4 linked regions of the Homo sapiens genome follow. The protein of the gene in region 2 interacts with the protein of the main gene of each other region in a pairwise test. Each region holds a gene or a part of one and is shown on either strand. Other genes may lie near its edges. The genes, in order: MEOX2, MRFAP1L1, SYCE1 and RADIL.

What was found.
Region 1: the proteins of MRFAP1L1 (region 2) and MEOX2 interact in binary tests that used the Homo sapiens proteins (3 or more experiments, as listed by UniProt).
Region 3: the proteins of MRFAP1L1 (region 2) and SYCE1 interact in binary tests that used the Homo sapiens proteins (3 or more experiments, as listed by UniProt).
Region 4: the proteins of MRFAP1L1 (region 2) and RADIL interact in binary tests that used the Homo sapiens proteins (3 or more experiments, as listed by UniProt).

The regions. Positions count from the first base shown.
Region 1 is NC_000007.14:15,610,167-15,614,491, forward strand, and holds the end of MEOX2 (homeobox protein MOX-2), read right to left. Parts: intron 2,446-4,325; coding exon 2,221-2,445; 3' UTR 1,046-2,220; downstream 1-1,045. UniProt on the Homo sapiens protein: Mesodermal transcription factor that plays a key role in somitogenesis and somitogenesis and limb muscle differentiation. Required during limb development for normal appendicular muscle formation and for the normal regulation of myogenic genes.
Region 2 is NC_000004.12:6,705,848-6,714,484, forward strand, and holds MRFAP1L1 (MORF4 family-associated protein 1-like 1), read right to left. Parts: upstream 4,019-8,637; 5' UTR 3,783-4,018; coding exon 3,399-3,782; 3' UTR 3,384-3,398; intron 2,797-3,383; 3' UTR 1,854-2,796; downstream 1-1,853.
Region 3 is NC_000010.11:133,561,892-133,571,088, forward strand, and holds the start of SYCE1 (synaptonemal complex central element protein 1), read right to left. Parts: upstream 3,693-9,197; 5' UTR 3,639-3,692; coding exon 3,566-3,638; intron 1-3,565. UniProt on the Homo sapiens protein: Major component of the transverse central element of synaptonemal complexes (SCS), formed between homologous chromosomes during meiotic prophase. Requires SYCP1 in order to be incorporated into the central element.
Region 4 is NC_000007.14:4,880,190-4,889,443, forward strand, and holds the start of RADIL (ras-associating and dilute domain-containing protein), read right to left. Parts: upstream 3,528-9,254; 5' UTR 3,407-3,527; intron 1-3,406. UniProt on the Homo sapiens protein: Downstream effector of Rap required for cell adhesion and migration of neural crest precursors during development.

The sequences.
Region 1 (4,325 bases), on a different chromosome or scaffold from region 2:
TCTTCCCACTTCACTAATTTGTCAAGATGTTTTGAATTTAAATCCTCTTCTACAGTAAGAAAGTCAGTCCACCCAAGTAGATGTCATCAGCACAAGCAGACTTTGTATTAATTCAGGTGATTAATGGAAAAGTGTCTGTTTCATGCCTGGGAGACCTCAATTCGAATGGTCTATTCTCAGTTAATTTTAAAATACTGACAACTACTGAGGTAAAATGTATTACATGAAAGGAAAATGTGATACAAAAAAATTATTTATTTCTGGGATACTCTCTATATATCACGCTAGATTAAGTTAAAATATATCAAATTAATTTTTGTCAGTCTGATCATTCTAAAGCAAGTGTAATCAATTAACTGATGGGTTTTTGGAAATTTTTACTGATTGTTTTTCTGTATTTGTTTCGGATTGAGGCAGGGGAGGAAGGCTGGCAATGTTTCCAAGCATTTCTGCTTAGAATATGAAACAAATGAAAAACAATGTGATAAAGCTATAAGTAGGACTAAGGCACCCCATGCGTGTGCAATCATGCATGATGCAAAATACATTATGTTAATAGCATCCTTTACTTCTTGCATTAGTCCCATTAGAACTGAGGACTCTGATTAGCTTCTTTAGCTTATATTTCACATCAGAGACTCTGCATATTCAGACTATAAAACCACTGTTGGATTAACTTACATATATCAGACATAACTTTAAAAATGTATGACTATTTTATTTTCCTCACTGTGGTGAATACTATTATTTAATACTTTTTTCCTACTTTTATCTGTGGCTTCATAAAACACACAAAAAAATCCATTCACTGTATTCTTCAAATTAGAGAAATAGCTTAATATATGCCCATTCTTAGGCGCCCTTTGATTACACAAGGATTTATTTTTTTCCTGCCATAATAAAAAAATTCAGAAATGAAAAAATGTAAATAATCCACTAATTATAATCATCTGGATTTGCACAAGTGCAGATAGATTTGAGACTTTGTTAATCATTGATATTGAAATCTATAAAAATTAAGAAAATTAATGTAGGGAGACCAAAGTTATTTACAAAGGATCATTTATTAAACACATTTTAAAAACAAAATACAAAGATAGTTGTTCTGCATGAATACATCACATATGAAAAAATAATGTGTTTTTACCGAATTTAATTTGAAGATATTCAGAATTTTGTTTTCTATCAACTTGAGCAACCAGTTTCGCTTTGCACCTTGTCTAACACTGTTGTCAATCAGGAAGAAATGTTTTCTTGTTAATTAAATCATATTCATACAGCTAATATTTTACAGAAATAAAATAAGACAATGTCTGTCATACAAAGCTCTTTCTGCAAGGTAACTGATTTGCCTATGATCCTAATTGTTTTAAGCTATAAGATAGGAAGAATTCAGGAGCTAGGTAAGTTTTATAATAACGTATTAGCAGCAGTTGATAGTAAATGCAACATAAGATTTGTTTTGTCTGTGGTACAAGAATATGTCCTATCAGACTCTACTGTATTTTTCTCTACTTGAACACAGGTAAGCACATACTGATTGTCTCTGGGATGACAAAATGTATAAAAAAGACAAGAAACTGGCTCTGGTTGTCATTGTGAGTGCCTATTTTCATCAGCTAATATGAATGCATTGCTAAATTAGTGAAGACAGGAAAATGACTTAAGGGTAATATATACAGAGTTAAAATACACTTTTTATCCACTTGAGTGAATTCAGGCACTGTGGCTGTTCAGGATAAAATGTTTCATGGTTTATTCTTGATAGCAATTTAATTTTCAGTGCAAGCAAAAGCAAATACCTGCCCACTGTAATACACATGATCTCACACATCTGGAATGTTCAATGCAAGTTCATCCTCGGCATCTTCACTCTGGAGACATCTTGAATAAAAAACCGTTCATAGTTTGCTCTTGATAGCAATTTAATTTTCAGTGCAAGCAAAAGCAAACACATACCTGCTCACTGCCATACGCACGACCAAACACATCTGGAATATTCAAAGCAAGTTCACCTTCTCCATCTTCACTGTGGAAGCTCTTTAATAAGTGGCACTTTGTGTAAACCCTCTATAAATCATGAAAAACAGATTCGAAATGCCTGGATTTAATAATATTAAACATCACTGCCATAGTCATCTCTCTGTGTAAACGATATTTGGGTAAGGCTTGCCATCACAACATTTCTTTCCTGAGAATGGAGCTGGTCCTCTGTTTATATCATAAGTGCGCATGCTCTGAGCTGTGGTCACTGTCGTGACTGTCTTCATTTGCTATAGAGTCCCCTGTTTGCTGGAGGGTGGCTGCACCAATTCCCGACAGCTCTGATGGGAGAAGTGTTCCCTTTTTCACATTCACCAGTTCCTTTTCCCGAGCCGCAGCTCCTTGCTGTCCACCCTTTACCCTCTTCCACTTCATCCGCCTGTTTTGGAACCAGACTTTCACCTTCAACCAAGAAAGGGAACAAACAAACAGAAAAAAAGAGATAATTAAAGTGACATTTTTTTCTCCTTAGTGTCATCAATGAAAAGAAGTTCCTCAAAGGCTTATACAAAGACACCATGAAGGAGTGAATAGAAAAATAAATCCACGTTGAATTTAATCAGGTTACATGTTCATGATAATAATTTTTAAAGTTTCAAAAGGTGCATACAAAGTACTATATTTGTATTTTACAGCATACAATGTAAAATATGGAACTAAACAAAAACTTTGTCATTTAAGGCACTCAAAGCACTTGCGTCTATAAAGAGCTTCTGTGAATTGGAGCTAACATAATATTTGTGTTGGTCAAAGCCCCCCACTCCTAAGTTCTTCTTTGATTTGACATCCAGCTGTCATTTCCTGAACCAATTTAAAACATGCTCCTGCAGCTACTGATTAAGCGGCATCTGAAAGGCCATACTCTGCCATCAGAAACTACTGCTGCTTTCACAAATCTTTATTTGACCATTCCACCTCACACTGAGCCTATCTTCTTTTGAACTCTTCTTTTTATTTTCTACCTTAATTCATTTATTTTACTTTGCAAATATTTGATCTAGTGATTTCTTTAAAATATGGTCACAATAAAAAATTCTCAACATTTGTTAAATGCTAACACCAAGATTATATACTACATCATTCACATCAGCTTTGTACAGGTATTTTCTTTTTAAAAGCTTCATTGAATTTGCCTAATACATTTAAATAAATATATATATTTAAATAACATATATGTATTAAAAACAAAAAAAACAGCAAACAGACATTAAAGGTCTATACATTATCAGAACTAGAATATAATTGGCATTATTGCATCTTGTTTAGGAGGAAATCTGTTTCTTTCACATTGCATTTCTCATAATTATAGCTTCTAGCAAGCAAAGTGTTCTTTTTACATTGTATTTCTCTGTCTACCCCACCTAAAAGTACCACAAGCCTGAATTTTGTGTGTCACCTCCAAGTCTTTCTTAAAAAAGAAAACAAATTTTTTTCATAACAAGTAATATTAAAACTATACTCTTTAATTTTATTTGTTTGTTAGGTTTATCAATGGAATGTTCCTAAGTGTAGGCTTTTTGCCACATCTTTGTTGATTCAAAAGACTCTATTTATTTATTTTTTATCATTGTATAATATTCCAAATTCTGTCAATATAGCACCATTTTTCTGTTCTACCATCCATGGATATTTGAATTCTTTTTTTTCTATATGTAATGCTGCTATAGACATTCTTGCATTTGTGTCCTGATAAGCATATCATGGGAACTTCCCTGGAGACTGCAGTTATATGGCTGCTGCTATCTATCTTCTCTCAATGTATGCTGTTTCTTTTTCCTTTTCTTAGAGTGTCTTTTGATGATTAGAAACTCTTAATATTAATTAATATGTTTAAATTTATCTATTGTTTCTTTTATGACTAGTGTTTTGTGTTTTCTTTTTCTAAAAAAATCTATTTTCTGAAGCCAGTAAGATATTCTATTGTGTCTTCTTCTAAGAGTTTTAAAGGTTGCCTTTTCCAACACAGTGGGACCCTGTCTCTACAAATAAATAGATAAAATAAAATAAAATAAAATAAAATAAAATAAAATAAAATAAAATAAAATAAAATAAAATTAGGTGGGTGGGATGGCATAGTGCCTGTAGTCCCAGCTTCTCAGGAGGCTAGGGTTGGAGGATTGCTTGAGCCCAAGTGGTTGAGGTTGCAGTCAGTGGTTGTTGCACCACTGCACTCCAGCCTGGGCAACAGAGCAAGATCCTGTCTCAAAAAGAAAAAAAAAGTTTGCCTTTCAAACTGAGGTACTTAATCAATGAAGTACTGATTTTAGTATATAGTCTGAAGA
Region 2 (8,637 bases):
AGACAGACCAATGACTTTCAGAGCTACTAACAGAAGCCAATCCAAATTTTCTAGATGACTTTGAAGTTGTTAAAATTCCACTGACACATCATTCAATGAAAAGAAAATGTGTAAGTTAAATAGGAAATAGAGACAAAACTCTCAATGTATCTAAATTATTTTTTCATCACAGCATGGGTTAAGACAATTAGCCTGTCACTACAATGCTCTGCCTAAGAGCCAAGGCTCAAAAATGATTCAGAACACTCTTTAGGCTGTAAATTTGAAGGAGGCTTAGGAAAAAAAAAAAAAAAAACCCTAGGATACTGAAGAGATGAAATGCAATCCTATGTATGAATATAATCTATGGTCAGTTAATCGAGGGGAAAAACATACATATACATAGTATATATGCACACGTGTATGTATGTAGCACATATATAGTATGTGTGTGTGTCTACGAGTGTGTATGTACAGGACTCAGATTTTTCACCCCCAAAGCATGTTTTTAAATCCGTCAGGTAACTTGTAAATAACAGCTTTCGCAATCAAGATCCACAATATCCCAAAGAGCAGCTGCTCCTTCAGCCAGCTCCTAGAATTAAGAGAATATGGAACAACTCACCTACAATGTATTAATACATCAATATGAATAAGAAAAAAAAATCCTCAGGTGTTGCAAGCCACTAAGGTTTTGGGGTGAACTGTTACAGCAGTTTAGTCTAGTTGACTGATATAGAAAGACCCCAAGTCTTGGCTCCAGAAAAGCCTAGCTGGTCCTTCCCACTCATTCTGCCCCAGTTCAGGCCCTCACTTCCCATCTCTACTTCTGCACCTGCCCCTATCTTCTAGCCCACACTCAAACTCACATTAATCCATACCCAGTCTTGGGTAATCTTCCTAAACTACAAATGTGACGGTCATTCTCCTGATTATCAGAAATTATGGCTCCCCAGCCATACTTCTCGTTTTTACTGAAGAACCCAGACAGGCAGGCACATGAGCAAGGATCTTAGATATCATGACAAAGCCAGAAACAGCTTCTGTAATTTTTCTGTGCTCAGGTACTTGATTTTTAAAATGCCTATTTTACACATTAATCCAAAACGTGTATCTGAGCTTGTTATGATCATGTATCTATTTTTATGAAATTAGATTTAGTAATTCTGGAAATTGTACCATGCCTACACTATGGCTCTGAGCATCCATTAGCACTCTGTGAAGAAACATTCCAGGGTGAAGAAATCTCACTGAAGTACAGGCTTATGAATCGATGAATTAACACCTTAAGGAAGACCTCTTGGCCCTGCCTGCCAATTTCACTCTGTCTCCCACAACCCCCTCCACACTCCTTAACATCCAGCTCAATGGCCATCTCCCCAGTGCTGGAACTGGAAAGGCTTTTGCTCACTTTGATCCCTGTCCCTTATATGCCTTCATTCATTTCTACTTTTCAGGTCCAGGTAAGTCACCTGCTCTGAATTCACACTTCCCTACGAAGAGTTGACTCCCTCCTCAGGGATCCCACAAGATATCCACGCACTCTATGTCACAATTCCTTGTTTCCATTTCTGTCCCACATATTCGCCCCATCCATGTCTTCACCTTTACGTTCCTAGTGCCTTGGATAGGATATGAAGCAAGTTACATTCCCACTGGTTAACTAAACACACTTCCGCTGCTGAAAAGCAGGGGCTTGGCCCAGAGGATGGCCGAAAGTTTTTCTCTTCAGAACTGAGTGTTCTGTCAGCTCATCTCCATAGCACCTTCCAGAAATAATTCTCCCTCAGTTAAAGGCTTACCAAGAGCCTTTAACTACAAGCAGTTCAACCCCATTTGATGACACTCAATGAAGAACATCCATTCCAAAAAAATTTGTTTATGATTCTTTTATTAACACACACAGGAGGGGCTTTGGTCATGTGAACAAAAAATTTATTTCTTAAAAAAGGCTTTTTAGGTCTTTGTTTTTCAAGGCAAATTAACACTTATTATACTTTTGACTTTGACCTCCAATCTGACAGGTCTACTACCCTGATGAACTGGAAGAGACTTTCCAGGCCCTGATAATGTCTTTTCCTTTCTCCGGCCTCTTAAAGCTCTCTGTAGACTGTCTCTTCCATGCCATTCTCTGATGCCCCTATAATGTGTGAGGGTATTACAATAGTCCCTATTCAAACTGCCTTGTCATAAAAGGTCAGCTATGTTGTCTAAATCAACTCACCTGACAGGTTACACAATATATATCAGACAATGTGCCACAAAACATAGCTCTCCTCTTTCGTCTCACAGAGGAACTAAAGTTCCAAAATATATACAAAACCATCTTCCATCTCCAACTGTCTTCTCTTTCTTCCCAGTTTTATGCAAAGCAGTCTCATTAATACATTCTTCACCAGGCTCAACCAAGTAGCGTAGTGTCTTCCATTGCACCTCTAAAGTTGGAAGATTCTGATCCCACGTCTTGACGTGTTCCAAAAAACAATCAGGTCACAAAGGTAACAGCAAAATACGAGGCCATGCCCAACATTTCAAAAACACAGCGAAGTAACAAGAATAAACGTGACCACAAAAACAACTTAATTAAGCCCCATTTCTCTTCTGAGAGTATTTCTTTGACAAAAGTTATATTTCCAAAACCAAACACATTTGATAATCTAAATCCATATCGAGGTCATCAATCACTGACCATAAGGGAGACTGTTACATCGGGGTAAAAAACATACAAAAACAAAACAGAGAAAATGACAAGCTGTTTCAGTTTCCTCAAGGTGTCAGTTCATCCTTACCAGTTGACTACAGTCCTCAGCTGTGAACCTAAAGCACAATTGGGAGAAATTTACCATGAAGACATTGACTCTCAAAGTTCCATATCCTGATGTTAAAAATAAATGTGAACCACCCAGAAGAATGCCACTTCTTTGAGACACGGTCCTCTGACATACCTGTCTCATAGAACAATCTGGAAATTTCAGGTAATGGCCTCTGGCTTTACTCTTTATTTCTCCTTCCCTGCGTTCTCAGCCTGCGTTCCACTGTGCTCTATGGCCTAGGTCTTCTTTGGCTTTCCCCAAACTCCCTTAGTGCCTAGACAGGTCTACTTCTGGCGACTGCCCTATTAGAATTGACTTTTATGTTTCACAAAAACAAAACCGAAGTTACTGTTATCTTTCTCTAATTAACAGCGTGGGAGGGAGAGGCCACAAAAAAACGGTATACTAACGCCTAACAAAACCAGCACGCATTCTTTCCTCTTGACCCCAACTTTGTTCCCAATGCTCAATTTTTGATGCAATAAAATGGGGGATGCAGGCCTAGAACATAACTTTTTACAGGGCGCGGTTTAACCATGCTTAGGGCGACTACTGAGTTTCATCCAAGCTCCAGCTAGTTTCCGACCTTACCACCGATCTCCTCCTTCAAGAAGACTCGCTTCTCTCTATTCGCCAGACGAGCTCGACCAGCATCTCTGCCATCTTCGCAATCTCCTTGGCTTTCTCCTCAGCCTTCTCGCACAACTCCGACACTCTCTCGTCGGCTTCGCCACTCGGGTGCTGCACGTGATTGAGGGCGCTCTCCTCCGAGGCCTCCACCTGCGTTTTGATCTGGATAAGCATATTGTCCATCTCCCACAGCTTGCTCCTGGTCCGCAGGTACGCCCGCCCGTGCTCGCGTATAAGAGACGCGATGTCCTCGCGCATCTCGTTGATGACCGGGAGCAGGAACTGCTCGAAATCCTCCTCGGGCTCCAGCACCTCCACTTCCTCAGGCGCTTCCACCTCGTCTATGTCCAGGGGCCGCATCTCCTCCTGCCGCTTCCTCAGTACCGCAGTAGGGGCGTTCTTCTCACCGGAACCCTCCAAGAACTGGAGATCAGCAGTTACTGCTGGAGGCTGAGCGACCCACACGCTTTGTCAATTGTACTCCCGAATTATCTTTATTTTTTTTTCTTCCTTTTAATTGTAAGCCTTTCGCTTCACAACTCTGCGGGAAGAATCGCCGTGGATGCACACAAATAAGCGGCCTACAAAATGGAGTCGCAGCCGTCAACTCGCCCTCGGCCTTTTTGCGGCCCTTTCACGACAGAGCCGGGCCCCTTTACGGTCACGCCTTCGGCAAGACCAGGTAGCGGGCGCGTGCACGTAAAGGGGCCTCGGGCGCGCGCACGTCCATCACCAGCTGCTTCCCGGCGCCCCTCCTCGCCCTCTAATTTAGATCGGTGGCGGCAGGTTTGTTCGCGTCTTCATCTAAAGCTTCCCTTCAGCGGGCTTTTACTTTTATTATTTTTTAAAAGTAAAAGTGACCCTCCCTTCCCTATATTTGAATAAGACTGGCTGGCGTTCACAGCGCTTACTATCTAAGCATGCACAAGCTTGAATTAACTTATATGAATTCATTTAGCCCTCACAACGAACCTAGAGGTAAAAACCGTGCTAAAAGTCGTGATTTGAGCCCAGAGCAATGTGGGTCCACAGTCCCTGCTCACTGTTTTAGAATGGAACACGTCCTTCTGTCCTCCCCACCCCTGGCTCATACTTTTGTCCTGGGGGGAAATTCTCTCGCTGCCTTGGGTGATTCTGGCCGGTGGTTTTTGGTCTCTCTTCGCCAGTCTGTAAGGTCCTCAAGGTAAAGGGCTACTTCTGTTTCAGTTCTGTCCTCCGCCCCTCCTGTCAGCCTGGCGTCAAGCAGGGTCTTAGGGGATGCTTTAGAGAGAGGAATTCTTCTCTAGTACATAAGTGCTTCTACCAGACTGGAGGCTGTTTGGGGACAGGTTCTGGTCTTGATCACCTTTATGTCCCTCCACACACAGGACCTGAAAATCAGCAGGGACCTAGTAAATGTGGCTTTGATGGTCAGTACATTTTGATCACTAACCTAATGCCATTGTGGAATGGAGGAAGTCTGTTGCTAGGCTTAGCCACCCAGTGCCACACTAGTAGTAATATGAGTGTGTGTAGAGGGGGCATCCTTCTTAACACAAGTGCCACAGATCAGAGCTTCAGTTTTCCAGTCTGATAAAGACCAATGGCCCCAGCCTGAATATCTGTCAGTGGGAAGAGGGATTTGTAAGATGACATGCGTGAAACAGTTTTGCAAACACCAACATTCTAGCAGATGTTCATCAAAAAAACATGAAGAGGGAAAGAGCAAGACACCGTGAAAAAAGATATTTTCAATAGTTATACTGACAAAGGACTCATATGCAGAATATATTGAGAACTCCTACAGATCAAGAAGGAAAAGACAAAATTTTTAAATGGGCAAAAGACGTAGGCTGGTACTTAACAAAAGAGAATATTCAAATGGCTAATAAGTATATGAAAAGGTGTTCAACGTCATGATTCAACAGGGAAATGCAGATGAAAACCACAATGAGGAAGCACTGTACATCCACTAGAATGACTAAAATTTCAAATACAATACCAAGTGTTGGGGAAGATGTGGAACAACTGGAACTCTTATACATTCTTGATGGATGTCTTAGTCTACTCTGGACACCATAACAAAATACTATAGACTGGTTGGCTTAAAAACAGACATTTATCTTCTCACAGTTCTGGAGGCCAGAAGTCCACGATTAAGGTGTCAGCAAATTTGGTTTCTGGAGGTGAGGGCTCTCTTCCTCAATTGCAGATGACCACCTTCCTGCTGCAGTCCTCACATGATCTCTTCTTTGTGCATGCAGTGTTGGGGGGTACAGGAAAGAGTGCTCTCTTGTGTCTCTTCTTATAAGAACATGAAGCTATAGGATCATGCCCCCACTTTTATGACCTTATTTAACCTTACTTACTGCTTTACTCCAAGTACAGCCACACTGGGGGTTAGGGCTTCAACATAAAAAAATATTGGGGGACACATATATTCAGCACATAATAATGGGAATGTAAGTTGTTACAATAATTTTGGAAAACTATTTGGCAGTATCAACCAAGATTAAACATATACCAATCCTATGTTCTAGCAAACTGACACCTTGTTATACACTCAAGAGAGTTTGAGTGCAATTGTTTATAAAAATACATATACGAGAATATTCACAGCAACTTTATTATAATAGCCCCAAAGTTAACCCAAATGTTCATCAGCAGGAGAATAAATAAATAAAATGAATAAATAGTAGCATATTCCTTCAGTGGTTTATTATTGCATAACCAGTTAACCCAAAATTTGGCAGCTTTAAAACATTTATTATCTGTCATAGTGCATTTAGGCTGCTCTAACAAAATGCCATAAGGTGGGCAGCTTACAAAAGAAATTTATTTCTCACAGTTCTGGGGGATGGGAAGTCCAAGATCAAAGTGCTAGTAGATTCTGTCTGGTGAGGGCTAGTATTTTGGTTCATAAACCGTTCCTTCTTGCTGTGTCCTCACAGGATGGAAGGAGCAAGGGGTCTCTCTTATGCATCCTTTTTTTTTTTTCTTTTGGAGATTGAGTTTCACTCTTGTCGCCCAGGCTGGAGTGCAGTGACACAATCTCTGCTCACTGAAACCTCTGCCTCCCGGGTTCAAGCGATTCTCCTGCCTCAGCCTCCTGAGTAGCTGGGATTACAGGTGCCTGTCATCACGCCTGGCTAATTTTTGTATTATTAGTAGAGATGGGGTTTCACTATGTTGGCCAAGCTGGTCTTGAACTCCTGACCTCAGGTGATCTACCCGCCACAGCCTCCCAAAGTGCTGGGATTACAGGCATGAGCCACCGTGCCCGGCCCTCTTATACATCTTTTGTGTATTTACTTGTAGACAAAGTCTTGCTCTTTTGCACAGGCTAAAGTGCAGTGGAATGAGCATAGCTCACTGTTTCAAACTCCTGAGCTCAAGTGATCCTCCAGCCTCCACCTCCTGAGTAGCTGGGGCTACAGGCACATGGCACCACACCCAGCTTTAAAAAAAATTTTTTTTAGAGACGGGGGTCTTGCTATGTTGCCCAGGCTGGTCTCAAACTCTTAGCCTCAAACAATTCTCCTGCCTCTTCCTCCCAAAGTGTTGGGATTACAGGCATGAGCCACTGCAGCTGGCCTTATATCCTTTATAAGGGTACTAGTCACATTCATGAGGGCTCTGACCCCATGACCAGATCACTTCCCAAAGGCCCCATCTCCTGATATCATCACTGTGTTAGGCTGTTCTCACATTGCTATAAAGGAATATCTGAGACCGGGTAATTTGTGAAGAAAAAAGGCTTAATTGGCTAAGGGTTCTGCAGGCTCTACAGGAAGCAGGGTGCTGGCATCTGCTTGGTTTGTGGGGAGGCCTCAGGAAACTTACAATCATGGCGGAAAGCAAAAGGAGAGCAGGCATGTCACATGACCAAAGCAGGAGCAAGAGGTGACAGGAGGTGCCACACACTTTAAATGACTAGATCTCACGAGAACTCACTCATCACAGGAACAGCACAAACGGGATGGCGCTAAACCATTCATGAGAAATCTGTCCCCATGACCCAGTCACCTCCCACCAGGCTCCAGCTCCAACACTGGAGATTACATTTCAACATGAGATTTGGGCAGGACATCCAAACCCTATCAATCACCTTCTGGGGTAGAATTTAAATATATGAATTTGGATGTGAGGACACAAATATTCAGACCATAGCATTATCTTATGTCATTTCAGTTTAGTATCTTACATGAGGTTGCAGTCAACCTATCAGCTGGGGCTGCAGTCATTTCTGAGTTTGAATGAGGATGGAGCATCCCCTTCCAGGATGACTTACTCATGTAGTTGTTGGAAAGAGGCTGTTTTTCCCTAGCTGTTGGTCTCAGTTCTTTGCTATATGGGCTTCTCCATGGAGCTGCTCACAACAAGGCAGCTGGTTTCCCCAGAGCAAGTGGTTTGTGAACCCCCAATATCTGAGACAGGTCTCAGTTCATTTAGAAAGTTTATTTTGCCGAGGTTGAGGATGTGTGCCCGTGACACAGCCTCAGGAGGTCCTGATGACATGTGTCCAAGGTGGTCAGAGCACAGCTTGGTTTTATACATTTTAGGGAGACATGAGACATCGATCAACATATCTAAGATGAACGATGGATTGGTCCGGAAAGGTGAGACAACTCAAAGCAAAGGCAGGACAACTTGAAGCGGGGAGGGGGCTTCCAGGTCTTGGGTAGATGAGAGAAAAATGGTTGCATTCTATTGAGTTTCTTTTTTTCTTTCTTTCTTTTAAAATTTTATTTATTTATTTATTTATTTATTTTGAGATGGAGTCTCACCCTGTCGCCCAGGCTGGAGAGCAGTGGCGTGATCTCGGCTCACTGCAACCTGCGCCTCCCAGGTCCAAGCAATTCTTCTGCCTCAGTCTCCCAAGTAGCTGGGATTACAGGTGTGTACGACCACAACCGGCTAATTTTTGTATTTTTAAAAGAGGGTTTCACCATGTTGGCCAGGCTGGTCTTGTACTCGTGATCTCAAATGATCCACCCACCTCAGCCTCCCAAAGTGCTGGGATTACAGGCGTAAGCCACCGCGCCCAGACATTTTGAGTCTCTGATTAGCCTCTCCAAAGGTGGCAATCAGATACGCATTTATCTCAGTGAGCGGAGAAGTGACTGTGAATAGAATGTGAGGCAGGTTTGCCCTAAGCAGTTTCCAACTTGACTTTTCTTTTAGCTTAGTAATTGTAGGACCCCAAGATTTATCTTCCTTTCGCAGGTTGGAAGGA
Region 3 (9,197 bases), on a different chromosome or scaffold from region 2:
TTCCCACCAGAAAAGGGGTGGTGGGGGAAGAAAAAACAGCCAGCAAAAGGAAAAAAGGGGGGGAAGATTTTTGATTTTGACTACTTAAGGGGATTTATTTACATAACAAGGCCACCTTTTTGCTAGCCAGGCCAAACTGAAAGAGAAAGGATTGTCACCCCAACTGCAGTTCCATAGCTAAGGTTCTGTCTTCTTTTTTCCATGACAGCCTGGGTTTGGTTCCTAAATCAAGACCTTTCTGGTTTGATACTTGGTACTTCTGAAATAGCAGATATTTGTCCTAGCTGAAATATGTTGATGAGATCTTAAAAATTTTTTAAAAAGAAACTCAAATGGTTAAAAGTCATCTTAATTAAAAGCTAACATCCAATGTGTGTGTGTGTGTGTGTGTGTGTGTGTGTGTGTGTGTGTGTGTGTGTGTGTGTATTTAAAAGGGCTTCATGATTTTTCTTTTTTCTCTCTCCTAGGACCTTGTGTTTTTTGGGCAAAAGTTTTTTTTCTTTTCAGTTGACTGAATGCTATTTTCTTCATATAGTTCTGCTGTCTCTCCTTTCCCTTGAACGCTCTGCTGCATGAGGGACCTAAAATAGTTTATAATAGCCTGAGGTTCCTTAAAGAAAATGGAGAAGGCACCAGACTCCCTTTTGTGGAGAAAATTGTTTTTCCTTGTGTATCCCCAAGAGTGTAAACACACAAGTTCATGTCAGCTCCTAAACTGTTTGCTTTTGTATTGTGTTACCTGATTTTTTTGTTTATTAATTATTGCAACAGAAGCTACTCCTGCATTTTTAAGGAAGAGTATATTTTAGACACTTAGAAATATTTTTTTAATGTTTTTTAAGTACACTGTAAAAGCATCCATGTGGTCGAGCCTCATAATAATTCTCCCTTTTTGCAGACCCAGGATTCAGTGTGGCCTCTTCCCAGAGCTCAGAGATCCAGTTAAAAGATAGGTAGTCACTATCTAAATAAAATTGGTCTCCTGTGATCCAACCACCTCCCACCAGGCCCCAACTCCAACATTGGGGATTACAATTCAACATATTTGGGTGAGGACACAGATCCAAACCATATCACAGGCCAAGGCCAAGGCCGAGGCACGGTTGAGAAGGCTCAGAGGCACCTGACCAAAGTTTGTAACAGTTTTGATTGACAATACCAAATTACCTTACACTGATGTATACAAGATGCCCAGTTTTTCATTTTTACCAATCACCTATGTTTCCAAACGTGTTTATCTTTGTCAACCAGATATGCAAAATTAAGGTGTCTCCTTACAAACTTTCTGATAGTAAATATCAAAAGTTTGGGTGCATCTTATTTTCTAAGACTATGTCCTAAGTAATTCTGGATATGGCTAATGGGCAAGGTGTTCATCACTGTATTGTTTATAATAGTGAAAAACTCGAAGAAGCCTAAATATGCCTTAGGGGATTTGTTAAATAAATTATAGCACATACACAGGATGAAATCATTTACAGCCATTAAAAATCATGCATACATGCATAAGGCCAGGCTCAGTGGTTCACATCCATAATCCCAGCACTTTTGGGAGACTGAGGCAGGAGGACTGCTCAAGCATAGGAGTTCAAGAGCAGCCTGAGCAATGCAGCAAGACCCTCTCTCTACAAATAAAAAATTTAAAAAAATTATCTGGGCATGGTGACATGTACCTGTGATTCCAGCTACTCAAGAGGCTGAGGTGGGAGAATCTCTTGAGGCCAGGAGGTCAAGGCTGCAGTGAGCAGTGATTGTACCACTGCACTCCAGCCTGGGCAACAAAGCACAATCTCGTCTCAAAAAAAAAAAAAAATCAAGCATAAAATTTTGTGAAATGCTTATTTTTGAGTTTATGGAGTCCCCTCATTTTGGTCCCACCTGAAATCTTACACAAATTACTGCTCATAAATTTTTGCATTAAGTTTTAAATTATTCAAGTAATTGGCATGTGTGAAAAAGTATGAAGAAAAAATTGAAACACCAACATTCCCTTTCCCCAGTCATTCCCCTTTCTAGTAATAACTGCAGCCAGTTAGGTGAAGACTAATAGACTTTTTACTAAAATGTATCTAGTGTCACTGACCCTAGATAACATCCCTGCTTCCTTTTTAAAACAGATAGACTAAAACTGGAATCTTGTCCTTTAAATTTCTTCTGTAGCTGGTCACTATAGAATGTTTGTGCCCCCATCCATAGTTCGTATGTTGAAATCCTAACCCCCTAGTGTGACTGCATTAGGAGGTGGGGCCTTTGGGAGGTGATTAGGTCATGAGAGTAGGGCCCTCAGCAATGGGATTAGTGCCCTTATAAGACCAGAGAGGTCTGCAGCAACTTCCCCAACATGAGGACACAATGAGAAGACAGAAGTCTATAGCCAGGAAGCAGGCCCCCACCAGACGCTGAATTGCACCTTGATCTTGAACTTCTAGCCTCGAAAACTGTGAGAAATAAGGCATTTCTGTTGTAGCAGTTTGAACTAAGGCACAAGCGACATTGGTTAAAACTTACCTAAATATACTAGGTTATGTGAGGAACATGGAGCCATGATACTGAAAGGCTAGCACACCGGCGGGCCAGCAGGTGCTTAATGAAAGGGATACGTTTGCGTCTGTCCTGTTTACTTGCTTTGTCCTTCGCTGGGGCTTTCACTGTGCCACATCTCACTGTAGGGATGCTTTCTGTGCTAAGCTTGTTTCAGTATTCAAACCTTCATTTTGTAAGAACATGACAGAGCACCTGCCATGGCATTCACGCAGGTAGGGCTGGAGGCAGCCACCGACGTTTGTTAATTGCAGAGTTTTAACTCAAGGGGGACAGATGATCTCAGGACAGAATGACAAGCTGAGTGACAGCAGGAGGGACGTCACCGTACAATTCTCTCCACTTTTCTGTAAGTTTGAAAATCCTCACAGAACACCCAGAGGCACACAGTGTCCTGAAGTGGAAACGGCCAGGACAGTGTCCTTTCTCTTTGTTGGGCTGCAATTTCTGGACTTCTGTACAACTCTGACCAGCTGCCTGTCCCCTCCCTTCCCAGGGTGAGGTAGGAGCCACTATGGCAGGTCGGGGTCAGGGAGAAACAAACGGGGGATCTGCGTGGAGTCGGCCTCCCCCGGCTCCCCGGGGCGTCGGGATGCTGGGTGGGGGGCCCCACTGTCAAGAACCAGTTTAGTGCGACTGGGAAATCTGGACACTTGCTGGTTCTAGGGAGAGGAAGGTGGAATTAGGAATTCCCTTGGGATTGGGAGCGTCAGGAAAATATCCTTTTTGTTTTAAGAGGTGTGTATGTAAAGTCTGTGGGACAACGGGAAGGGATGTCTTTTGACTAATTACCTAAACCAAAATTGGAGCAACTATGATAACAGTTCAATGCTTTAAGACAAAGTGGGGGGTGTGCGGGCAAGCACTCCCTCATCTTGGCCGAAATTTTTCTGAAGAAACCCGCTAAGTCTCAATCAGCAGCATCAGGACTGACAGGAAGAAGCAGCCGCCACCCGCGCCCCAACCCTGCCCCGCCTCGGCGAGGTCAGACCCTCACGCACAGTTCCCTGCCTCCCACCACTACCTCCGGCCTTCTCAGCCCTGTCCACGGCTCCTGCGGTGGGCTCGGCCTTCGATGTCAGGGACCTCCCCGCCATTTCCTCTCAGCTCGCCAGCGAGGGTGCCTCGGGAGGGAGCCTCCAGTGGTGATTGGAGCAACCGCCGCTGGGGGCAGGACTCCAGGCAGCGCGCCTGCGCAATGCACTCCTGCGCGCGCCTGGAGATGTGAGGTAATTCTCCGGCAGGCCTGCGTGGCACTAGTGCGCATGCGTAAAGGCGCGAGGGCTACAAACGCGGCGGGAAGCCCGCCAGGGCCACGTGCGGCCGTCCAGGCTTGCGATTGGCCCGCTGCCGGGTGCCCCCGCGCATGTGCGCTGGCTTCCGAGGGGACCGGCCCTGGTTCTGGAGGCCCTCCCCACCAACGAGCAGTACGCATGTGTAGCGCCGAAGCTTCCTGTGAAGTGTGCGTGTCTGACGGATGACGACTCCACAAGGCGCTGTGGCCCTGGCAGCCTCATGAGGTTGCGGCTCTGCGGGACCACACCGCCGCGGGAGTGCACGGGCCCCAGCGAGTGAAATCTGCGGCAGCCCCCGCTGGGCCCGCTGTTCCTGCGCGCGCAGAGGAGCGTAGCCTGCCCCTAGGCCGCGTTCCCGTGAGCTCCATGCCCACAGTGGCCGAGGCCGGCCACAAGCCCACGGTCCCTTCTGCACGGTCCCTGCCGCGCTGGGGCCACCGTGGAGGCCCGGAGGGCCCTGGGAGGAGGGAGGAGGAGCAGAGGCTTTCGGGAGAACCCAGCCCTTCACCGGCCAGGGGAGGCCGCGATGCATCGCGACTGGTTGTGAAGAGCCAGGGGAAGAACTTTACCGTGCAGGTGAGTGGGAGACATCAGAACACCTGCCTGTCCTAAATACGAAGCCTCGAATCCTAACCTATAAAAGGTTACCTTAGGGTTTAGGGTTAGGGCTACAGATTAGAGCTAGGGATTAAGGTTAGAGTTGGGGTTGGGGTTAGGGTTTAGGGGTTAGAAGTTAGTTTTGGGGTTAGGAGTGGGGTTAGAATTAGGGTTTGGGGTTAGTGTTAGGGGTAGGGGAAGGATTGGGGTAGGGTTAGGGTTGGGCTAGGGTCGGGGTAGGGGTAGGGTTTTACGGTTAGGGTCAGGGTTTTAGTGTTGGGGTTAGGGTATTGGGGTTAGGGTTTGGGGGCTAGGGGATTAGGGTCAGGGGTGGGGGTTAGGGTTTGGGATTTGGCTAAGGTTTGTAAGGGTTAGGGTTTTAGGGTAGGGGATAGGGGTTAGGGTTACGTGTTGGGGTTGGGATTAGGGTTAGGGGTTACAGTTTAGGGTAAGGGGTTAGAGTTAAGGGTTAGGGTTAGCATTAGGAGTTACAGTTGGGTTAAGGGTTAGGGGTTAGGCTTAGTGTTGTTAGGGTTAGGGTTAGGGTTAGCATTAGGAGTTACAGTTGGGTTAAGGGTTGCAGGTTAGGCTTAGTGTTGTTAGGGTTAGCTTCAGGGTTCGGTGTCAGGGTTTGGGGTGGGGTAGTGGTAGGTTTAGGGGTAGCGTTGTGTGTTAGGATTTGTGGTTACGGTTCGGGCTAGGGTTTTAGGGGTAGGCATAGGTTCGAGTTTGGGTTTGGGTGTTAGGTTTATGGCTAGCATTAGGGTAGGGGTTAGGTGTAGGAGTAGGGGTTGAGGTTATGAGTTGAGGTTAGGGTTAGGGGTCAGGGGTCCGGTCAAGGGTTGGTGTTGGATTTAGGGATTAGGGCTAGAATTAGGGGTTAGGGTTAGGGGTTTGTGTCGGGGTTGGGTTGGAGGCTTGGGTTCAGGGTCAAGTTTAGGGTTGGGGCTAGGGCTTAGGGTTATGGGTTAGTGTTAGCAGTTAGGGTTAAGGTTTAGGCTTAGGGTTTAGTGCTTGAGGTGGGGGTTAGGTGTTAGGGGTTAGGGTTAAGGGTTAGTGTTTTGCGTTAGTGGTTAGGGTTAAGGGTTATGGTTAAGGGTCAGCGTTAGGGTCAGGGGTTAGGGGTAGGGGTTGTGCTTAGTTTTAGGGTTAGGGTTCCTGGACGGATGGTTTTCCTGCTTGGGAATGTTCCTGGGCTGTGAGATCCACTCTTCTGGGCAGGTGGTTAGCACCTAACGTTTTCCCCTTACTTCCCCCCAAATTCTTAAGTCCTTTGGTCCATTTCATTACTTCTTTTGGGGAGGGCCTGATTCCTCAGGGCCTCAGTGGCAGAACCAGCCTGAGGTCACCTCCCTGTCCATGGGTTACCACGGCCCCTGGGCAGGCATGGGGAGCTGGGGTGGCTTGGGTTCCTGGCCTTGGCACCTCCCTTTGGGCGGCTCTGGAGTGTGGCTGGGCTGTTGGTACAGGAGCCACAGGCCACTGCCTTTTTGGCTGAGGGGACCCTAACATCCTGGAGCAGGTGGGGCAGGGCCCATGGTCTCCTCTAGGTGGGAGGTGGGAGGCTGAGGCGGCGTGGGCAGGCAGGTGGATGGCGAGGCAGCATGGGCAGGACGGTGGATGGCGGGTCCACAGGGGCAGCCAGCAGCTCCTGCACCCACTGGGGCTCCAAGACTGTGGGCAAGGGAGGAAGGGGGAGCCCAGGCCGGAGGATCCTGGGGGACGGTGCGGCCCGGGGGCCAGATGTGGTCACCGAGCCCAGCCAGGCCTAGGGCCGCAGCAGCCCCAGGGCACTGAGGGCGCCACCCAGCCCGACACAGAGGCACAGGCCGCCCGTGGGTCCAGCGCCCGAAGTCCACGTACAGTAGCTGTAGATGCCGAGCCGGTCCTGTTGCCTCCGGGAACCCAGTCCTCCTCGTCCTCCAGGCCGCGTTCCCCGGGTCCCGCGGCCCTTCTCCAGCCTGAGCCCGCCGCCCCGGCCGCAGCCACGCGCAGGGAGGAGCCCGGGGCACCATAGCACAGCGCCGGCCTCACACACACCCTCGAGGCCCCTCTCGAGCCCCCGCGGAGCCCTCCGCGGCCGCACGCAGAGGAAGGCTGCCTCCTGTAGCAGAGCCCAGCCATTCGCGGGTGCCCAGTTCATCTTCATGGGGCTAAACCTGCGGGAAGAGAGGGAAAGGGCCCTTAGTTTCCATGGAGATCGGGTGCCCAGAGGCGGAGGGCTCAAGGCTGGAGAGCAGAGGGACCCCCATCTTTTGTGGGATCAGGGTGCCCCCAGCATCTTGGAGGCCCACTGAGGCCTGGGGGGGCGCGGTTTAACCTCTAGCATCAGGGACTTAGGCCTGGGGGAGGCGCTGGGAAGTGGCAGGTGGGGCAGGAGGGGCAGGAGGGTTCTGCACCTGAAGGTTGTGCACCTGGATTGGGGGTGTAGAAGCGGGGCAGGAGCGTTCAGGCCTCTGGGGGCGTCCAGGCCCGGGCGGGGGAGCAAGCCTGGGGGAGGGAGCTCTGCACGCGTTGCTGGGATGTGGGGGGCGGGGGGAGGCGGCATGGGGGGAGGGGCGTTGTGTTTGGAGGACGCGGTAGCCGGGACCAAGAGCTGGCTCAGATCAGGGTCTGGAACGGGGACGGGCCGTGCCTGGGCCTGGTCCCCACCTTTGGGGCCAAAGCCTGGGTGCGGGCCTTGCGGATGCTGCGGAGGACAAGCGGCTGCTGACACCGTGCGGACTCCGCCCCAGCAGACCCGTGCCCCAGGGACAGTCCCTCCCGCGCGCGCCCAGCGCTCAATGCCGTCCCCGGCCGCCTAGTTCAGCAGCTGGCTGGGGGCGGGACGGGGTCGAGTTGCGGGGCCGCGTCCAGACACGGCTGTGCGGGCGACAGCTGCATCCCCTCCCCGCGCCGCCCCTCGCTCCCGGCCCCGTACCCGCCCCAGCCTCCCGGCCTTACCCGCCACGGGCCTCGGTTGGAACCGCGCGCTGGAGTATCCGTCCCTGAGGCCGCGGCCGAGCGGGAAGGAGCGGGCGGGCGGCGGCGCGGACCCTCAGCCGGAGCGCGGAGCCGCGGCGCCTGGGTTTTGCGCGAGGCCTCCGCCCTGGGATTGGGGCGGGCAGTCGCGGAGGCGCATCCCTGGTGAGCCGGTGGGAGGGGAAAAGGATGTCGCGTCCCCCATCCTTGCGGCCTCCCGTCCTCCGTCACCAGCCCCCTCCGTCTCCTGCATCACAAGGCCCCGTCCCCGCGGTCCCCCGCGACCCCCGCACCCGGCTCCGCTCCACCCGCCGTGCTTCCTGCCCCTCCACACCCTCGTCCCCACCCGGGCCCATCCCCCTGTGAGCCCTGGTGCCCTGGGATGAGGGCCGAGGTCCTGAGCGGAGAGGGTGCTTGTACCAGCCCCATGGTGGCTCGAGCCCACCCCGCGGCCCCTCCCGTGGCAGGTGCGGTTTCTCCACCGGTTGTCAGCTGCGGGGCCGGGCGGAGACCTCCTCAACCTCCGGCCTTGTTTCAGGGAGGATGGGGTCGACCCTTGCGATCCCCAGAGGCCCCCCATGGCTCCTTCTGGGCTGGCTGTCTTCCTCCTGTGGGTTCTGATGCCACCTGGGCCGACGGCGTCTTCTCAGCCCAGGGCGGCCGCGCCTCCGGTGAGTTTCAGCTGAGGGCGCGCGGCCAGCTCCGAGCCTGGCTCCGGGTGCAGCACCGGCCTGGGACCTCTGCTGTCCCGTGTAGGGGTGCCCTGCAAATATGTGATGAATAAGTGAAGAAATACGTTTTATCTTCTAACTTGCCGGATGTTAGAAGGAAACCAAGCTTATGCTTCTCATTTATAGCTACCGTTAAGGATTGGACAGAAGCTTAGCTTTTTGGGTGAGACGGACAACAGTGTTTTTAGAACCTTTGGCAAGGAAGAGCTGGAAAGAACATGTATTTGAAAGTGACTGACAGGTCTTCTGGCCCTAGGGGGCCACCTGAGCAGGTGCACCCAGCTTCCCTCCAAGACAGAAAATAAATTAACAAGGAGAGCAGGAAGGGCCCCGGCAGACTCCAGACGGGAGGGGGTGCTGCCCATCAGGCAGAAGGAGCTTGGAAGGGAGGGGCCGTGGCCATGGGACGTGGAGGTGGGAGCGGGGGTCATCATAGGTCTGCACACTCGGGTTGAGTCCCCCTTCCCCATCACACACAGGACAGCCAGCAGTGAGCTGCTTACCCCAAGGAGTCAAGGGGGTTCTTGGGCAACCCCTGGTGCTGGAGCCGGCAGTGGACAGCACCGCAGCCAGACCTTGCTTATTTTTGGCTCATGAGGAACATCTGTGACCGTTCCCTCCCCTGGCCCTGGGAGGGGATGTGTGACCTCCACTCAAGACAGCCATGCGGCTCCTCCGGCTGCGGGCGGGGAGGGCATGTTTCCCAGCACAGGCCCAGGACTGCCAGCTGAGAGGCTGGGAGGGGCCCCTCACCCCTAGACTTTGCATGTGAAGCCAAGCGTGGAGCCTCACAGGGAATCTGAGATGGGAGCCAGTGAGATGGGGGCAGGACCCAGAGGGGAGAAGAGGTCCTGGGGATGCTGTGGATCTGGATCCAGCGTGCGGGAGCTGAGGTTCCGGAGTGAAACACTGCCTTTCATGGAAGCACGTCTTCCTGTCACCCATCGGCTTCATTTTAAAGGATGAAAATGTATCAGACATTCAAGGAGAGCTGCATCACATAAAAGAAAGACCAGGCAAAGAAACGGAAAATAAATGGATTGAGAAATGTGAATGACTCCAATCATTCCAA
Region 4 (9,254 bases), on a different chromosome or scaffold from region 2:
TCCATCGAGCCAGGCCATAAAGGAGTAAAGGAGCAAAGCCTTTGTTTCTCTTCCTCTGAGGAAGGTGCAACGAGTGGCCTTGTCAAATCCTAAGAAGCTCAGAGCCGGCCGCAGCTTCCCCCACGGACTCATCAAAGGCCTCGGTTTCATTTACAACAAAAGCATTTTCAGACAGTGCTCACATCACAAACGTGCGGCCTGGCCTGTGCACACCACACCAGCGGCTTCCAATCGCCCTCTAGTCTGACCTCAGTCTCCTGTGGTCAGTTTTCAAAGTGAGTACTTGGAATCACAGAACAAAACCCCTCAAAGAGCCTCTCCAGCCGGCACTTATTAACCATCCATGAGAGCTGCACAACCCTGCTCCAAAGCACCTCTCCAGATGCCCCAGGCTTAGAAGCCTCCAGGCAGCACACACTGGCAGAGGGTCGGCCACCACCTTTTCATAGTGCTCATTTCCAACGGGTTCCCCAGGGTGCAAAGGCAAAGTGCAGGTGGTGGATGGTACAGCCTCTGCCACCAGGCAGCTGTGGCTCAGGAAACCTCTGCCTCCGGAGATGAAGTCTGAATGCTGATATAAATACGATACCAAAAACTGGGGAAGCCCCCTCCAGGCAGGAGAAAGCCCATATCACAGAAAAGTCATGAAGCAGAGCCAAGTATTTAAAAGGCCAAGGCAGGAGAATGGCTTAAGGCCAGGAGTTCAAGACTAGCCTGGGCAACATAACAAGATCCCAATCTCTACAGAAAATAAAAATAAAAAATTAGCTGGGCATGGTGTGCACCTGTAGTCCCAGCTACTCGGGAGGCTGAGGCAGGAGGATCACCGGAGCCCAGGAGTTCCAGGCTACAGTGAGCTATGATTGCGCCACGTCACTCCAGCCTGGGCAATGGAGTGAGACCCTCTCTGTTAAAAAAAAAAAAAAAAAAAAAAAAAAAAAGATGGCTGGGCACGGTGGCTCACGCTTGTAATCCCAGCACTTTGGGAGGCTGAGGCGGGCAGATCACGAGGTCAGCAGATCGAGACCATCCTGGCTAACACTATGAAACCCTTTTTCTACTAAAAATACAAAAAATTAGCCAGGCGTGGTGGTGGGCACCTGTAGTCCCAGCTACTCGGGAGGCTGAGGCAGGAGAATGGCGTGAACCCGGGAGGCGGAGCTTGCAGTGAGCCAAGATCATGCCACTGCACTCCAGCCTGGGCGACAGAGTGAGACTCCCTCTCAAAAAAAAAAAAAAAAAAAAGACAAAAATTGGCTGGGCATGGTGGTTCATGCCTGTAATCCCAGCTCTTTGGGAGGCCGAGGCGGGCAGATCACTTGAGGTCAGGAGTTCAAGACCAGCCTGGCCAACATGGTGAAACCCTGTCTCCACTAAAAATACAAAAATTAGCTGGGCATGGTGGCGGGTGCCTGTAACCCCAGCTACTTGGCAGGCTGAGGCAGGAGAATCGCTTGAACCCCAGAGGCAGAGGTTGCAGCAAGCCGAGATCACGCCACTGCACTCCAGCCTGGGCAACAGAGTGAGACTCCGTCTCAAAAAAAAAAAAAAAGACAAAAATTATAAAAAGGCCCCCAAATACAATGGAAAAGTGAGTTGATATTTGGGGCCCAGGGGTGGATATATGTTTTGTAAGGTCTGACATTTACATAATTCTTCTTTAATAAAAAACAAATAGAAAATTACAAACACACAACTGCTAGGTCTCCTCCCAGGGTCTTAGAAGCTTGAACTTCAGAAATGTTGTTCCCCCCACTTCCCCCCACCCCTGCTTTTCCCACAGTTTCCGGAGCCGGATTCGAAGGCAGAGGCAGAGTTAGCAGTATCATGAAACAGGAGAAAATGTAAGCAGAGAGAATATGATTGACTCCTTTCCAATAACTCCTTCTTAAGCCCCCAGAAGTCCCTGTTACACAAACCTTATCTGTTTTGGGATTTTCAGAAAGCATTTCTCTCCGTTTGGTCATCCTCCCTTGGCCAGACCAGAGGGTGCCCACTTGTTCACACGCTGCCCGCTTCCGAATCCCAGAAGGCGGAGCCTGGCCTGTTTGTGAGAATGGGATGGACTCGTTTTTTAAAAGGCCAAGGGGAGTGCAGGAAAATCCGACCGGGCGGAGCACGCCCTGGGTAACAAGATCTGTTTTTCTGGAAGTGCGACCGGCCTCTTCTGCCCCATTCGCTCCTCTGTGACACAAATACTTGGGGAAAGCGCAGGGCTCGGACAGCGAGGGTGTGGGGCGCTGGCTGGTGCTGCTCTTAGAGAATGTTTTCTCTTGTTCTCAAGGAAGGGTCCAGTTTCTGATGAAAAACAAGCTCAAGTCCCAGCGGCGAGTACAGGGAGTGAGGTCAGTGCTGCGCTGACGACATGGGTGGAGCGACCTCTCTGCTCCAACAGGACAATGTGGAACCCATTATCATTTCCAGCAGGAGGGAAAACGAAGCGCAGACTTTACACACTCAGCTCTCTCCCCTCCTTCCATGAATCCTATCTTTACAGCCCCAGCCCGAGCCACGCTTTCAAATGCAAACATAATTCAATCAGATTTAATTCTGACCTGCTAGCTGCTGGAGAGGAGACCGACTTGCCCCCCAGCAAAAGGGACTTTCAAGACTGGTTCCTGTCTGGAATGCACAAGAGGTGGCCTATATTAACCGCGGGACACGAGCAATCAGATTCTTCTGTGCAATTCAGATTAGCCAAACACTTGACAGGCGACAGGGCAGGGCAGGATGGTCCGCAGCCCCGCCAGGGCCCTGCCAACCCCACCAACAGGCTCCTCCTGCGAGGCCCCAGGAGCTCGGCTCAGCATCTGTTATCTTGGATGCAGTATTTGTCGAGGGGCTGGAAATGGTACATAAATAGCCGGGAAACAATGCTTTGAGCTGGCGCACGAGTGGGGATCGGGCTGCAACCGGGACGGGGTATGTGCAGGGGACGTCTCGCCGGCCCAGGTGGGAGAGCGCGCGGAACCCTGCGCCCCGCTCCCCCGCTGCGCCCCGCTCCCCCGCTGCGCGCCCCGGACGAAGCTCCCCCTCCAGGGCACAGCCGGGAAAACTGAGGGCCGAGAGTCCCCTGGAGTTGGGGGTCCGGGGCCCACGCGGACAGCCAGGCTCAGGAGCTCTCGGGGGTCGGCAGCGCGGACCCCCGGATCCCCGCAGGCTGGGCCGCCCTTGCCCGCGCTAGCCGGCCTCCGGGTACCGCCCCCCGGTCCAGGCCGGGGCCCGACAGCCAGTCGGTTCCCATGGCAACTGGGCAAACCTGCCCTCCGCGCCCCGACCAGCGGCCGGGAGTGTCCCCGAGCGCGCCCCGCGGCCTCCGCGCCCCAGGTCCCCGGCAGCGGCCGAGCAGCGCCCCTTACGAGCCACCCCCGGTTCCGCAGTCACTCCTCGCGCACCCCACACTCACCTCCGGCACAACCCGCCGCGCCGCCACGTTCCCGCGCTGCTCCCACCCGCCGTTGGCTGGGGCCGGCGCCCAGACCCGCGCGTGCCGCGGCGCCTCCTGCCGGCGGCGCAACGGGCGGGGCGGGGCCTCAAGGGGACGGGGCCACAAAGGGTGGGGCGGGGGAGAACAGGTGGGCTGGAGCTGGGCCTCGGCGCCCAATAGGCAGAAAGAAAGCCTCGAGGAGGCGGGGTCTCCAGGAGAGGGGCGGGGCCAACCTGCTAGAAAAGGCGGGCTGTGCTCTGGCGCCTCCTGCCGGCCGCCCAATGGACGGGGATGCAGCCTCGAGGGGGCGGGGCCTCACCGGAGAGGCGGGGTTTTGAAGAAAGGGGTGGGGCTGGTTGTGGAGAGGCGGGACTTGCAGCCCACCCACAGACTGCAGCTTAAGGAGGGGGGGTCCCCGGAGGAAGGGTGGGACCAGTTCTAAGTCCCTGAGCTGCTTGTGGGCTCTGGGCTCCTGCGGTTGGGTGGGCTATTTCGAGACAGCACCTTCTAGTAGCCCAGTGAGTGGGTGTAGGGGAGGGTAGAGCTGTGCCCCCAATTAATAAACATCTTCTAAGACATCGAAAAGGAACAAGGGAGGAATTTCCTCTCCCCTACCATCTGTCTCCCACCCAGAGTTTTAAAAGACAAATCAGGTCATGGCATTCCTGCTTACAATTATGCAAAAAAATGACCAGGTCAGCTCTGGGGCTCTGGCCCCAACTGCTCTCCCTGGGGACTTGTTTAAAAAGCAGCTCGTGACCTCGGCACTTTGGCTGGGGTTTTCCCTTTGAGGAATGTGGGCTAGACCTGGGAGATTCAGGTGGTTCGGAATATCAATATGCAGAATGTGGGCCTCGGGAGTGAACCTTTTTGTGGACAGCTATCGTGGTATGATTTCCGTAGTCATGACCCCATATTCGCGATGGAGGTCGGAGCAGACATTGATGAGTGTGGGAACAGACATTTATTGACCACCTGTGTGCCAGGCCCTAGGCAACTTTACCTAGGTCACCTCACTTAATGCTCACATCAATTCTTGTGAGACAGAGATGTCTGAGACATTCCAGGCCTCCCCTTTCCTCCACCTATCACCTGCTAATCCTAAAGTCCACCTCCTAAACCTTTTCTAATAAAAAATAGTGCCTCAAAGTCAACACAGAGAGACAGATTTGAGCCAGGCTCCTGTCTCCTTATTGATCAACTCACAATACGGACAAAAAAAGCTTTTGTCTCAAAAACTTAATGCAGTAAGATTGGCTTTTTTTTTTTTTTTTTTTTTTTTTTTTTTTGGAGACAGAGTCTTATTCTATTGCCCTAGCTGGAGTGCAGTGGTGTGATCTCAGCTCACTGCAACCACCACCTCCCAGGTTCAAGCGATTCTCCTGCCTCAGCCTCCCGAGTAGCTAAGGTTAACAGGCACCTACCACCACGCCCACCTAATTTTTGTATTTTTAGTAGAGACGGGGTTTTGCCATGTTGACCAGGCTGGTTTTGAAATCCTAACATCAGGTGATCCACCCACCTCAGTCTCCCAAAGTGCTGGAATTACAGGCATGAACCTCTGCACCTGATCAAGATTGGCTTCTAGCAGAGCAAGCGCAGAACCCTTTTGTTCAGTAATACTCCCATTTTTCAGATGAGAAAATAGAGACGCAGAGAGGTCAGGCTGCTGGAGGTAGAGACAAGAACTGAGCCAGGAATACAGGACCCTCTGTATACACACCAACCTCCTCGCCTACCCCAGGAAGGGATGCTTGAAAGGAATGACGTGCTTGAATATTTCATTCAGGTGCGCATGAAGAGACAATGGTCAGAGCTGAAGGAGAGCCTGGGTTCAGGCCTGGGTTTTCCTCCTGAGATATTCCTCACCCTGCTCCTGGCCCATCTCCCACAGTCCCCACATCCTTCTTCCACAGGGGTCGGATAACTACAACCCATGGGCCAGATCTGGGCTGCCTTCTGTTTTTGTAAATAAAGTTTTATTCAAACACAGCTACCCTCATTTGTTTAGATATTATCTACGACTGCTTTCCTGCAACCAGGATTTTACAGCCCCAAATATCTAAAATATGACCTGGCCCTTTATAGAGAAACTTTTCAGATTGCTTCTTGATCTAGAAATGCTGACTTTTTGGTATGAATATGCTGTTTCATGCCTCGAGATCTTCCCTCAGGCCGGTCCCTTGACCTTCAAACACCTTTTCCAACTGTATTAGATTAGCTGAGCTGCTATTAAAAAATGCCAGATCAGGTGGCTCGAAAAACGGAAATGTTTTATCTGGCAGCTCTGGAGGCTGGAAGTCCAAGGTGAAGTTGTCAGCAGGTTTGGCTTCTTTGAGGGCCTCTATCCTTGGTTTGCAGACGGCCACCTTCTGGCTGTGCCCCCACATGGCCTTTCTTCTGGGTGTGCACCTCTCACCTGTCTCTTTGTGTGTTCAATCTCCTCTTTTTATAAGGACACTAGTCAGATTAGACTAGGGCCCATCCTAACAGCCTCATTTTATCTTAATCACCTCTTTAAAGGCCCTGTCTCCAAATATAGTCACATTCTGAGGTGTGAGGGGTCGGGGCTTCAACAAACACGTGAATTTTAGGGGGACAAAATTCAGACCATAACAGCAAACTTCATTACCTGGCTAACTTCTTTTTTTTCAAATGTGTGTGTGTATATATATATATATATATTTTTTTTTTAGATGGAACCTTGCTCTGTCGCCCAGGCTGGAGTGCGGTGAGGCAATCTTGGCTCACTGCAATCTCTGCCTCCCAGGTTCAAGCGATTCTCCTGCTTCAGCCTCCTGAGTAGCTGGGATTATAGGCACCTGCCACCACGCCTGACTAATTTTTGTAATTTTAGTAGAGATGGGGCTTCACCATGTTGACCAGGCTGGTCTCGAACTCCTGACCTTGCAATCTGCCTGCCTCAGCCTCCCAAAGTGCTAGGATTATAGGCATGAGCCACCACACCCGGCCGCTAATTTCTACTCATCCTTTGAGACTCAGATAAGGCGTTTCTTTGGTAGTAGCCAACCTCCAAGATGGCCCCAGTGATTCCCACCTCTTGGTTTTCATGCTCCTGTATAGGCCCATGTTGAATAGGGCAGACTTGTGTAATCAGTAAGATACTGCCAAAATGACACTGTGACTTCTGGAACACAATCATAAAAGACGTGGCTTCTGCCCTTGCTCTCTCTTAGATCAGTAGTTCTGAGGTCAGTGAGCCATGGTGGATGTGAGTCCTCCAGCCCCAGGAGACTTTAGGTGACAGACATCCCAGCTGGAGTCCATTGAAGGACCCTGAGCCAAAAAAGCTCCCTCCTCCCTGCAGCAAAGCTACTCCCAAATTCCCAACCCTCAAAGACTATGAGATGATAATTTTTTTTTTTTTAGATGGAGGCTTGCTCTGTTGCCTAGGCTGGAGTGCAGTGGTGCAATTTCAGCTCACTGCAACATCCACCTCCCGGATTCAAGTGATTCTCCTGCCTCAGCCTCCCGAGTAGCTGGGAATACAGGCACCTGCCACCACCCCCACCTAATTTTGTATTTTTAGCAGAAATGGGGTTTCCCCATGTTAGCTAAGCTGGTCTCGAACTCCTGACCTCAAGTGACCCACCCACCTCAGCCTCCCAAAGTGCTGGGATTACAGGCATGAGCCACCACATCCAGCTGATAAATGTTTATTATTGACCTCAGCTACTAAGTTTTGGCAGCAGTTTGTTACGTAGCAATGGATAACTAATACCCCTTATCCAGAAAGATCTTCCTGTCTCCTAGACCTGGTTACATGTCCTCTTGTGTGCGCCCACAGTCTTTTATTTTTGTTACCTTTTTATTAAGCAAGTCCACATCAATCACACTATGTTCCTTAAACCTAAACCAGATGTTATTACTCCTCCACCTATAACCCTCTCATAACTTTTCCTTTTGCACTTAGAATAAAGTAGGTTTGCAAAACCCAGCTCCAACTGCTCTCTTCCTTGGCCTTGGATCTCCAGCCCTCAGAACTTCTTTCCTCAAGCACTCTGAGGTCATCTCCCTTCTCCGAGACCTTTCCTCTTTGGTCTCCTTGACCCCACAGCCTTCCCTCTGTGTTTTCATGCTGGGCCCCTTCCCAGCGCAGAAACTCATCTCCCTTCCTGTCTTCTGACCACCTCTTGACCATCACCCCCGAGTCATTCTCGATTTTATTATACATATATATATTATACATATATATAATATAGAGAGATTTAATTTATATATATTTATAAATATATAATTTATATATATATATATATAGAGAGAGAGAGAGAGCATGAGACAGAGAGATAGGGTCTTGCTCTGTTGCCCAGGCTGTAGTGCAATAGTGCAATCATAGCTCACTGAAGCCTTGACTTTCCAGGCTCAAGTGATCCTCCCAACTCAGCCTCCTGAGTAGCTGGGACTACATGCCTGGCTAATTTTTTTATTTTTATTTTTTGTAGAGATGGGGTCTCCCTATGTTGCCCAGACTGGTCTCAAACTCCTGGCCTCAAGCGATCCTCCCATCTCGGCTCCTGAAGTACTGGGATTACAGGTGTGAGCCACCACACCTGACCACCTGTTTTATTTAATTCATAGAGTTTATCACCATGTCAATGTATTTGCTTATGTATTTAACACACACTAGAATTTGTGTTTTTGGAAAGCAAGGGCTTCATGTGTCTTGTTTACTATTATACTTGGCAACTAGCCAGTGCTCAATAAATATTTGTTAAATGAGTAGATGAAGGAATAGATTTCCATCCACTCTCACCCCCTCCCTCCAGGGAAAGTCCAAAGCTGTATTCATCTCCGTATCCCAGCATCTGGCTCCTGGGCAGTTTTTGAACTGTCGGGTTAAGTATCTTTGGAAATCCACTGGCCAAAAATAGAGTGTTGAGCTCTCCTGCTTGGCCACCAGAGAGTGACAGAATCCGGCAACTGACTCCAGGAAAGGACCTGAGCCCAGGGGAAAGGGATCTGGTTAAGGTCCAAAGTTCCGGTGCCCAAGGGATGGCCGTCCAGGGGCAGAGACTGGGCTTTTTCGGGGCCCAGAGGAGAGAGGAGGCAGGCTTTAGGAGGTGCACAGGGAGCATTAGATCCCAACCTTTCCTTCCCAGACTGTTACATCTGGTATCCCTAGAGGGGTGTGGCAGAACAAGTGATTTAATCCTTGGATTCCATTCTTCAGGCCCTCCACACCTATAAATAGCAGTGCTTGTGGCTCATGCCTGTAATCCCAGCACTTTGGGAGGCCAAGGCAGGAGGACCACTTGAGATCAGGAGTTCGAGATCAGCCTGGCCAACACAGTGAAACCCTGTCTGTACTAAAAATTTTAAAATTAGCCAGATGTGATGGCACGCACCTGTAGTCCCAGCTACTCGGGAGGCTGAGGCACGAGAATCGCTTGAACCCAGATGGCAGAGGTTGCAGTGAGCCAAGGTCATGCCACTGCACCCCAGCCTGGGTGACAGAGCAAGACTCAGTCTCAAAAAAAAAAAAAATTGTTATCACCTTCAAAGGAGAGACCACACCAGCTAGGCAGGCACGCCCCATTCTCTCCTGCCCCTGGGTCTCGGCAACCACCAATCCACTTTCTGCCTCTGTGGCCACAGCTCTCGTGGATATTTCATGTAAGTGGAGTCATACAATATTTGACATTTTGTGTCTGGATTCTTTCCCTTGGCATAGTTTTTGAGGTTCATCTTCTTTCCTCTAAATCTGAAACTATTCTAAAATTTCAAAGTTTATTTCAAAACATTGAGAGCAGGTAAGCCCTGCGGGTTGCCTGTGGCTCTAGAAAGCTGGGTTTGAATTGGCAAAGTT